2 linked regions of the Homo sapiens genome follow. The protein of the gene in region 1 interacts with the protein of each later gene in a pairwise test. Each region holds a gene or a part of one and is shown on either strand. Other genes may lie near its edges.

Region 1 (4,668 bases):
TCTGCTGCTTTTCACTGAGTCAACTTGTGTATTAGATGTTCGGGACAGGTTTGGAAGACTGCGTCTTAGTTTTTCTGCAACAGAATTTTAATTTTAAAAAAATCATATTCTTTCAGATGGAGAAAATTAAAATATTAACTAGCATTCAAAAATCAAATTGTTTATCAAACATTCTGTTTATTTTAGATGAGAAAATACAAAGGACTTGTCTTATTAAAAAAAACAAACAACTCGATCTAGGATCTGTTAAGTGGGTAGAATAAGAGAACACTTAAAGATAACCACAAATTTTATATTTAAAGCAAAATCTAAATACAGGTAACTTCATAAAACAATAAAGCAAAAACAACATAACCAAGTAAAATGAAATTCACTTTCTCTTTTATTTTTGTAATGATTCACTATTAATAAAATAGTAAACCTGACTACACTCTTGATTTACTTATCTGAAATACAAAAACTTAGCAAAAATTGTATTACTTTCATAGTGAAATATAAAGGACACTTTTTCTCTTTTTTTAATCTAGAAACTTTTTTTTTTTTTTTTTTTTTGAAAACAGGATCCTGCTCTGTTGCCCAGACTGGAGTGTAATGGTGTGATCACAGCTCACTGTAGCTTTGAACTCCTGGGCTCAACCAATCCTCCAGCCTCAGCCTCTCAAGTCACTAGGACTATAGATGTGCACCACCATGCCCAGCTAATTTTGAAAATTTTTTTCCTAGAGACGGGGTCTTGCTATGTTACACAGGCTAGCAGAAACTGTCTAATTATTAGTAAAATCTGCTATTTTACCTTCATTTTTAACATTGCTTGTCTGTAAATCTGTGGGATGGCCTTGAAGTGAAAGGCGAGGTTGCTGTAAGCGGCTAATCATAGGCTGTGGGGACACTCTACTATATTCTATTCCCCGAGCAGGAGATCGTGAACGAGGTGAATTTCTGGGTGACTGCTTAGGTGACGGTCGAGGTGAATTGCGTGGTGATGGTGAAAACCTGTTAACAGCAGGGTATACTGCATGATGCATATTGTCATCTTCATCATCTAAACTTTGTGCATCAAGTTCCTGATCACTAAAAGTACCCCGTCTTGTAGAATTGCAAGATGAACCAGAACTGCGCCGAGACGTGGTGGCTGCATATTCTTGCCGGAGACCTGGCAACAATGAATGTTATTTATTTAAACAATATTTTTAAACATTTAAATAATTTTAAAATTTAAAGTAAAAGATTATCACTGAAAAATTCAAAGAGGGTGTAAAGTGTAAAAGAAAACTCCCTTTCTGCTTTTAGACTTATATAGGCTTATATGTCCATATAAGGAGGCATAAATCACATCTGAAGGTTATTTTTAAATTGAATGAAATCCCATAAACCACTGCCCAATTTCCAGATTTCTTCTTAAAGCTGAAATCTGTCTCACATGGTAGAATCATAAATTTAAAAATATTTCTACCCCTAAAGACAGTAATCCAAATTTGAGACTAATATTAAAGGAATATTGAGGGGAAACAATTACCATCCAACCAGTGGAAAAAGAATACGTATGTGAGTAAATAAAACTTCTTGGATACTTAATTACTGAAATAATCTTACTCATGAAGATGATAAAGTACCAAAGAAACTTCTAACCCACTTATAGGAATTCAGTACTTGGGCACAAACGAAATCTTGATTGCTTCACTACCCAAGAGACTTCCATTTTTATTGTTTTAAGCTTGTTTTCAAGCTTAAATTCTAAGTCTTCAAGTAAGAATTTTCAAAGAATTCTCCTATATAGCTTGATACCTTCGAAAACACCCAAGCAACCTTGGGAGCCCTTCAAATAGTACAGATGCTTCTAGAACAACAGAAAAAAAAGTTGATACGTAACATAGTCAATGAAGAAACAAACTGCAATGCAAACGTATAGAATTTAGGTAATATTCTGAGCACAACCTGCTAACTATTAGCACTCCAGTCAAAAAGATCTGTTATAAAGTGGTATTCAAATCCTAAAGTCATGTATTCACACACAGAAAGTGCTATCAACACGGTTCATCAAACCAGTGGATGAGAATCACCCTAGGGTATCTTTAAAACTATAAATTCCTGGAGTCCACTTAGCCCTTCAGTTAGTCGGGGAACCAAAATAGTAACCAACAAGTTACTTAGTGTCTAGTTATAGCCAACATGGCACTAAAGTCACCTAACAAAAGACAACAGACCAATGAAAAGAGCACTGTTGGATCACTATAGGAGCTTGCATTTCTCATCTTAAAAACGAATGACCTTGACCAGGTGACTGCCCAAATCTGTAGTTCTACATTTCTAATCATTACAAAACACAATGTTGTAAAAAGGAAAATCATCTCTAAGACAAAAAAAAAGCTGTAGTTTTCAAGAAGTATCACATATATTTTTATTACTATTTTTACTCATCAGGAAAATAAATATTCATGCATGTGGATGGCTTAGAAAAAATTATTAAAGTAAGACTAAAATTTCTATTGTTACCAAAACACAATACAAAACCAAAAGCAAAGAGCTGGTTGAGCTTCTAACAAAATACTAGGATCTAAAAAGCCAGGGTTCAAAGAAATGAGAGAACTTGTTCTAAAGTACAGAGTTAGGCAGCATTCTTTATTTTTTCACATCCACAACAATAACCACCCCCTAACCAGCTGACAATACCACAGTCTCACTGAGGAGTTAATTAAAATTACAGAAGAAAAAGAGTACTCTGCTATTAGGTTGCAGGGCTAAATAAAGCAAGCACTAAGTCCTTCTATCTTCCTAGGGGAAGCTATATGGAAATGGGAAGTGAATCAGCAGAATAAGAAACACTTTAGTTTCTTAATAAATGCTACAGCTTGATAAAGCCTACTACATATTTAAAGAGAACCTATTACATACACAGACAACAGAAAGTTTTTGAACTAAACCGTAGCAATGCTCCATTAACCTCAGCCACCTGTCAAGACTTGTCAACATATGTATTTCAAGGATTCTTTTCATTGTAAAGGTTGAAGAGATTGCTTTAGAGAGATTTCTTACTTCATAGTTATGCAGATGGCATCTTCTAATGAAATGCACTGGCAAGAATAAGTACCTTCAGATGAGTACCAGGGCAAGTAGCCATGAACCCTTTAAAAAGTATTAAAAATTTTGTGCATATGTACACTTTGATGATAAAAGGATTCTCAAAGGTATCTGTGGCCTAAAAAGTTTTCATCATTCACTCTGCAAAGCACCATCACATGCTTCATTTAATTTAATGTCACAATTCCAATGTTCTCCTAAAGGTCTTTTTTACAGTTTACACCATGTATTCTCAAGTGAGGAGATATTCATTCCCAAGAGGGCAAAAACTGGTTCTTGGGGTGTGAAAAAATTCCTAGATGTCATAATTGTATATGGCCCTCATAGTACTTAAACATATATAGAGTATATCTTGTGGTATTAAGATTTCATGGGGAGTGTGGGAGAAAAGGAAAAGAAGTTTTTAACAAGGCTCCTTAGGGGAGCAACCGAAAAGAAAAAAATTGAGAAACGCTGGTTTACACTAAAACACAAAGGGTAATAGACTAACAATTACAAGAGTTAAGTGCTAGTGCAGAGTAACATGCAGGGTATAAAAACCAGTCATAGAAGCAGAGCAGCATAAATGCTGTTCTTTGTCCCTCACACAGCATAACTGCTCTATGTAAAAATGGACTCTGAAAACAAGTTGATGAATAAACATGTACATATGTTGACTAAGTCTCTGAAATGTCCACTGCAACATTTCTACTTTCACTACATTACTACCCCCACAATACTTTAAGACATATTTAATATACAACAAAATTATGCAATAGTAAAAAACCTCAACTCTTAACAATTAGAATACTTACTTTCTTCCTGCATCCGGGCTAGAATCTGTACATCAGTTACATCATTTAGCTTATAATTGGATCCAATTGAATCTTCATCTAATTCTGAAGCACTTAACTCACTATCTATAGAGGACTGAGGACTGAGTGGAGGATTTCTGTCTGAGCTTTTCAAGTTACCTTAAAAAAAAAAAAAGAAAAAAATTCAAACTCTGGTAAAGCAACTATTGAATAAATGCCTACTGCAACTAACTTGATATTATACCCTTTGATTTAATTCATTCTTGTTCTGCCTTTTCTGCTTAAAAAATTCCCTGAAATTAGAAATTGACCTCATTAAGAAAAATGAGGGCTACTGAGACTCCTTTATATGCTATGGCATAAACATATTTTCATCTAAGTATAACTTATCTATTCTCTTATGTAACAATTCAGCTTTCAGCACAGTGCCTGGCAAGTAATTGGTGTTCAATAAGTATATGTTAAGGATTTCAACTTGCACAAGATAGCCAATGAAACTGCTCTATAAATAGATGAGTTTATGATGTAGTGTTTTCTTCTCCCGAATTCACAGTCATTGACAAACACCATCATCTTTTCCCTCATTTTTCTAAATGAGAAAACTATAATTTGAATAAAATTAGATTCCTTAGAGATTTTAGGAACAAAGACCATGAGGCTTGTTTCTCCTACATTATGCCATGTTTAAAGTACTTTATCATTCTAAACCAAAAGGAAGACAGAAAACAGGCCAGAGGAATAAAGAATACACACATCCAAAAAAGTCTAACTTGTTTCTAATGAAATATTTTCATCA
Region 2 (5,463 bases), on another chromosome or scaffold:
ACAAAAAAATTAGTTAGGTGTGGTGGCAGGTGCCCGTAATCCCAGGTACTCAGGAGGCTGAGGCAGGAGAAATGCTTGAACCCAGGAGGTGGAGGCTGCAGTGAGCTGAGTGAGATCAAACCATGGCACTCCAGCCTGGGTGACAGAGTGAGACTCCGTCTCAAAAACAAAAAAACAAAAAACAAAACAAAACAAAACGAAACAAAACTGTAGCTCCTTCCCTCAACATCTATCACTATCTAACATACTATAGATTTATTTATTGTCTGTCTTCCCCAACTAGAATTTAAATTCTAGGAGGTCATGGATTTTTATGTTTTATTCACTGATATATTCCCCAGCGCATGGAATAGCGCCTTACAAATGATATCAACACAGTAAATATTTGTTGAATGAATAAGTAAGTCTTAGAAACTAAAAACTTGTCAGGCATCAAGATTAGGAAGGGCATTCCAGGAAGAAAGAATGGCATGTGTAAATGCATGAAAATGAAACATTTAAGAAAATACAAGTGGTCCCTTGATGCTGGAATGCTATGACCTGATTTCCCTGCTTCCCTTCACAGCAAAACTCCTTTAGAGAGTTGTCTATACTTGATGTCTCCAATTTATCTCCTCCCAGTCTCTCTTGATCCACTACAATGAAATTTCTGCTCTCACCACTACTATATGGGAACTGTTCATTAAGGTCACTGAATTACTATGTTGTTAAATCAAATACTGTGGTCAGGCCCAGTCTCTTTTTACTTGATCTGTGAAAAGCATTTAATATCAAGTCATTCCTTCCTTTTGAAATACGCTCTTCACTTGGTTGCAAAATAGCACATTCTTCTGTTTGTTCTGAGGCAGGATTTTCTCCTGCCTCGCTGACCACTTCTCAGTCCCTCTTGCTGGTTATTCTTCATCTCCCTAACCTCTTACCACTGGAGTGCCCCAGATCTCAGTCCTTGGATCTCATCTCTTTTATATTTACATATACTCCCTGGACTATCAGCCAGTATCCTGGCTTTTAAATCTAAATGCTGATAACTCTCAAATTTGTGTTCCCAATCTAGACTTTTCCCTTGAACTCCAGATTTATTCATCCAACTGCCTACTACGCATCTCCAACTAGGATTTCTAACACACATCTCAAATTTAACATGTCCTAAACTCCCCCCACCCCAACCTACTCCACCATGTCCTCCCTAGCTCACTTAATGACAACTCCATTCTTTCAGTTGCTCAGGTCAGAAAGTTCCTTTCATATCCCACATCTATTCTATGATCAATTATGCTGACCCAGCTTTCACAATATATCCACCTGGGCTACTTACCACTATTTCTACTGCTACCACTTTGATTCAAGTTGCCATTCTCTCCCATGTACATTATTTGCTATAGCTACGTGAATGGTGTCCCTGCTTCCATTTTCTCCCCGACTATCTATTCTTAACCTAGCAACCACAATGATCCTTTTAAAGCTTAAGTAAATTCATGTTACTCCCATGTTAAAAAAAACTCTCCAGTAGCTTTCCATCTCACTCAATCTTTAAAATGGCCTAGAAAGTACTATACAATTTGACACTTCTCTTCCCCAATTAATCATCAGTGAACCTTTCTAATCCTTTTCATTAATCTTTCTCTTGCTCAATAATCTCTGGCCACACTGCCTACCTTGACATGCTCTAAAGCAGAAACTTTTATTCCTTCTTCCCTTTGTATCAACTCTTCCTTCAAATGACCACAGGGCTTGCTCACTTCCTTCGAGCATTTGCCAAAATGTCACTTTCTTAGTGAGCCTTCCCAGTCCAAACTACTTAAAAACTGCACACTTACCCCCATTCTCCCCTTCTGTTTTATTTTTCTCCGTTAACTTATCAATGTCTAAGATAAAATTAAATAGTTAACTTATTATCTGTTTTCTCCTACTAAATTGTAAGTTCAATGAGGGCATAAACTTTTGTCAAATTTGTTTGCTTCTGTACCTTAGTACAGAAATGTGCCTGCCACATAGCAGCTGCTGGATAAACATTTGTGGAAGAAGTGACTATGAATGAATGGAAGAACTTTCCAATAGAAAAACCGCCCACTCTTGGAATGGGTCTCCTTTGAAAGTGTTAAGCAGATGTTGGGAGGTGTCAAGCAAATAACGGAAAGATGGTTTTAGAAGAAATTTCTGCAATGGGGAATAAGTTGAACCAGAAACCTTTCAAGATTAAGGCTCAACAGTTCTTTTAAACGTTTTGCCAGGAAGAAACTTTAAAATCAAAGATCACTATCTATCTCAAAGACAGTAGAACACAGAAACTCCCCACAAACTGTTGCATCTCACACACCTGAAAGGGATCCTAACATAGAAATCTAGTTCATCTCCCAAAAAATCCAGTCTGGAATATCAAATCTCACTTTACTAATTAGGAAACCACAGCTGGACTGCCCTCCCCAATAAGCTGGTTCTGACACAATTCCTTAATTTAATAAACGACACTGTCAATCGCCTATTCAAATCCTCATGCCAGAAATCTGGGAGTGTTCCTTGACACTGCCCTGCAACCCCCTACATCAATGACCTCACCAAGGGAAACTTTAGGAGCCAGAACCAGGCATTTGGGGTACTGTTCCAGGGTGATTTACCATATAGACACTGAGACATTATGATAGTGATTACAACTGTGTTGGAGCTCCAGTTCCAACGTTTCATAGCTATGTGATCTCAACACCTCTTCGTCTCAATTTCCAGATTTATAAAACCATAAAAAATAAGGGCATCTCCTTGTAGGGACTAAATGAGCCAATGTATGTACAGTGTCTAGTACGGGACCTGGTAAACTATCAGCACTCAATACCAGCACTCTGTGACACTTGTCCGGCCAGCATCTCGACTATCTCTAAATACGAAATACTCAGTTCCACATCCAATTCTCCTGAATTGGATACCTCATCTAAAAAATCATTGTCCCTATTCTCTACTGAAATCCTACCTGTACATCAAGCAGCTCAAGTTCTAAGTTCCAAGTTCTCCCTAGTCTTCCATCACCCCTTCGCCTTCAGCCAGCCTCTCCAAACGAGAGGGCTCCTTCGAGAACTTTGGCACGCAGTCCCTAACATTCATTCCGCAGACACGTACTGAGCGCTCACAATGCCCTAGAAACTGTTCAAGGGAGTAGAGCAGTCCCAGAGACAGAAATATCTTCCCTTAAGTAGCTGACCTAACTGGTGGCTCTCCCCGCTCGCCCTGCCGGACGCTCAAATCTCAGAAACAAGAGGCAGCGACTCAAAGCCAAAACAGGACTCCGTCAACGAACCCCTCGTAGCCGGAGAGGGGCCGCCGTCCCGGATCCCGGAGGACAGAGGGCGGAAGACGAGCCGGAGACCGAGGCGGACAGCGCCTAGAGAACCGACTCAAGAACGACACCGATCCCGACAGGGAGAGGGCGGTCACGTCAACTGCCGCAGGCCACTAACTTACCTCTCTTTCAGCGTGGGGCACCCCCACCCAGCTCCGGGAGCTCGGCGAGCAGCAGCGGCTGCGGCTTGGGTTTAAACGCCACAGCCGTTGGCGGTTGCCCCATCAGCCAATCGGGTCCTGCGAAGATGGAGCAAGGGAGGGCGGTTACTAGGAAGTGAAAGGCGGAAAGGGCGGGACGCCGCTGCTAGGGCAGGAAGGGGCGTGCCCAGGCGAGCCGGGGGCGGCACAGTCTGCGTGACAGGGGTGCTCTTCCGCCCTGTGTTGGTGGCGGTCCGCTGTCTCCTGAAGCGTTGATGGAAAAGGAAACTCTCCTCTGACATTCATTATCAATCACATGTCTGAAAGGCTTGACAGCCACCTCAAGTCTGTTAGAAGGTTTATGTTGTTTACTGGGATACTACCCACCCACATCTTACCATTTCTTCTGCATCCTTGCATTTCCAAGTGTGACGCCAGCACATTTAGTTTTCACTTAAAAGCTCTCCCCGTTTTTCTTTTAACTTTCTGGGGGAAAAGCAGCAATGACATTTCGTTGCAAACCCCGGATCTCATTAATATTTAGGTCTTGCACTAATGGTCTGTTTTAGCTGAATATACAAGAATGACGTTTTCCATTATACACAACTACATTTTAAAAATGTATTATTCACCTTATATTCCATGTCAATTCGCTTATTTTTCGCAAATTACTTTCATAATTTTTACAAAGAATTTGGAGAAACTACAAAGAATAAAATTTCCTCTTTGTATGCCATTGGACTGAAAATGAAAATAGCTTGTTAAATCAAGGTTCCAATAATTGATGATACAGTAATGCAGTCAGCTTCATATTCTTGTCAATTTTTTGTTCATTCGAAGACATTTGAGAATTACAGCTTTCCATTTTTACTTTAAAGAATCTAGACAAATGATGCAAAACATGCTTTTGAGTTAAGATCTTTTAGTCTAATATAAATCACGATCAGTCTCCAAACAGATCTGGTTACATGAATCTTGTGTAAGTAGAAAAGTATTTACTGATTGTCCAGCTGCTAAAATTCCAGAAGACAGTGGTTTACAAAGTAATATACTGGTTATAGAAATTTATGCTTACCTAGGAGTTAACTAGCACTATATCTTGTTTACCCAGCCTGACACATTAAATGCTCAATGTATGTTATATGTTTTTTTAAATGAACCTTGTAGTGACTGTGCCATTTAATGGTTATTTAATCTTGGCCAAACTACTTAATCTCTCTGGGCTTCTGTTTCCTTATTTGTAAAATGGAGTTAAACAGCATCCCATATATTTTTATGATGGTTTCAATCAATGGGCCCTTTTGTTCAAATACATTAATATTGCTCTCTTCCCAATGGACACATTTTGTAGTTACAGCTTCAAAACCAAAACAAATAGAAAAGGGAGACAGGAAAATCAGAGGTAGAAGAGATGCTAAAACATTTATCAAGACATGAATACCAAGACCTCTTTAAAAAAAAAAGTGCTAGCCGGGCGCGGTGGCTCACGCCTGTAATGCCAGCACTTTGGAAGGCCGAGGCGGGCGGATCACGAGGTCAGGAGAGCGAGACCATCCTGGCTAACACAGTGAAACCCCGTCTCTGCTAAAAATACAAAAAATTAGCCGGGCGTGGTGGCGGGCGCCTGTAGTCCCAGCTACTCCGGAGGCTGAGGCAGGAGAATGGCGTGAACCCGGGAGGCGGAGCTTGCAGTGAGCCGAGATCGCGCCACCGCACTCCAGCCTGGGCGACAGAGCAAGACTCCGTCTCAAAAAAAAAAAAAAAAAAAAAAAAAAAAAAAGTGCTACCTTATCTCAGAGCAGTTGAAAGGATTTAACTGCTTTGTAAATTGTAAAACCTCTTGAAAATGTAAATTAGTATCATATACAACCATAAACCTAAAAGTATAATTAGTCGGGTTAAATTTAACGTGATCTCAGCTTGCTTTTTAGTTATTTGCCTTTTGCCTCTTGGTATAATGGATAGAGGCAGGAGCCCTGGATGAGAAGTCTGGAG

What was found. Proteins that work in one complex are often made in the same cells at the same time.
Region 2: the proteins of SLAIN2 (region 1) and SGO2 interact in a two-hybrid assay, tested with the Homo sapiens proteins (one large-scale study listed by BioGRID).

The regions. Positions count from the first base shown.
Region 1 is NC_000004.12:48,379,053-48,383,720, reverse strand, and holds part of SLAIN2 (SLAIN motif-containing protein 2), read right to left. Parts: intron 4,032-4,668; coding exon 3,873-4,031; intron 1,154-3,872; coding exon 794-1,153; intron 75-793; coding exon 1-74.
Region 2 is NC_000002.12:200,524,240-200,529,702, reverse strand, and holds the start of SGO2 (shugoshin 2), read right to left. Parts: upstream 3,497-5,463; 5' UTR 3,451-3,496; exon of another isoform or gene 2,963-3,450; intron 1-2,962. UniProt on the Homo sapiens protein: Cooperates with PPP2CA to protect centromeric cohesin from separase-mediated cleavage in oocytes specifically during meiosis I. Has a crucial role in protecting REC8 at centromeres from cleavage by separase.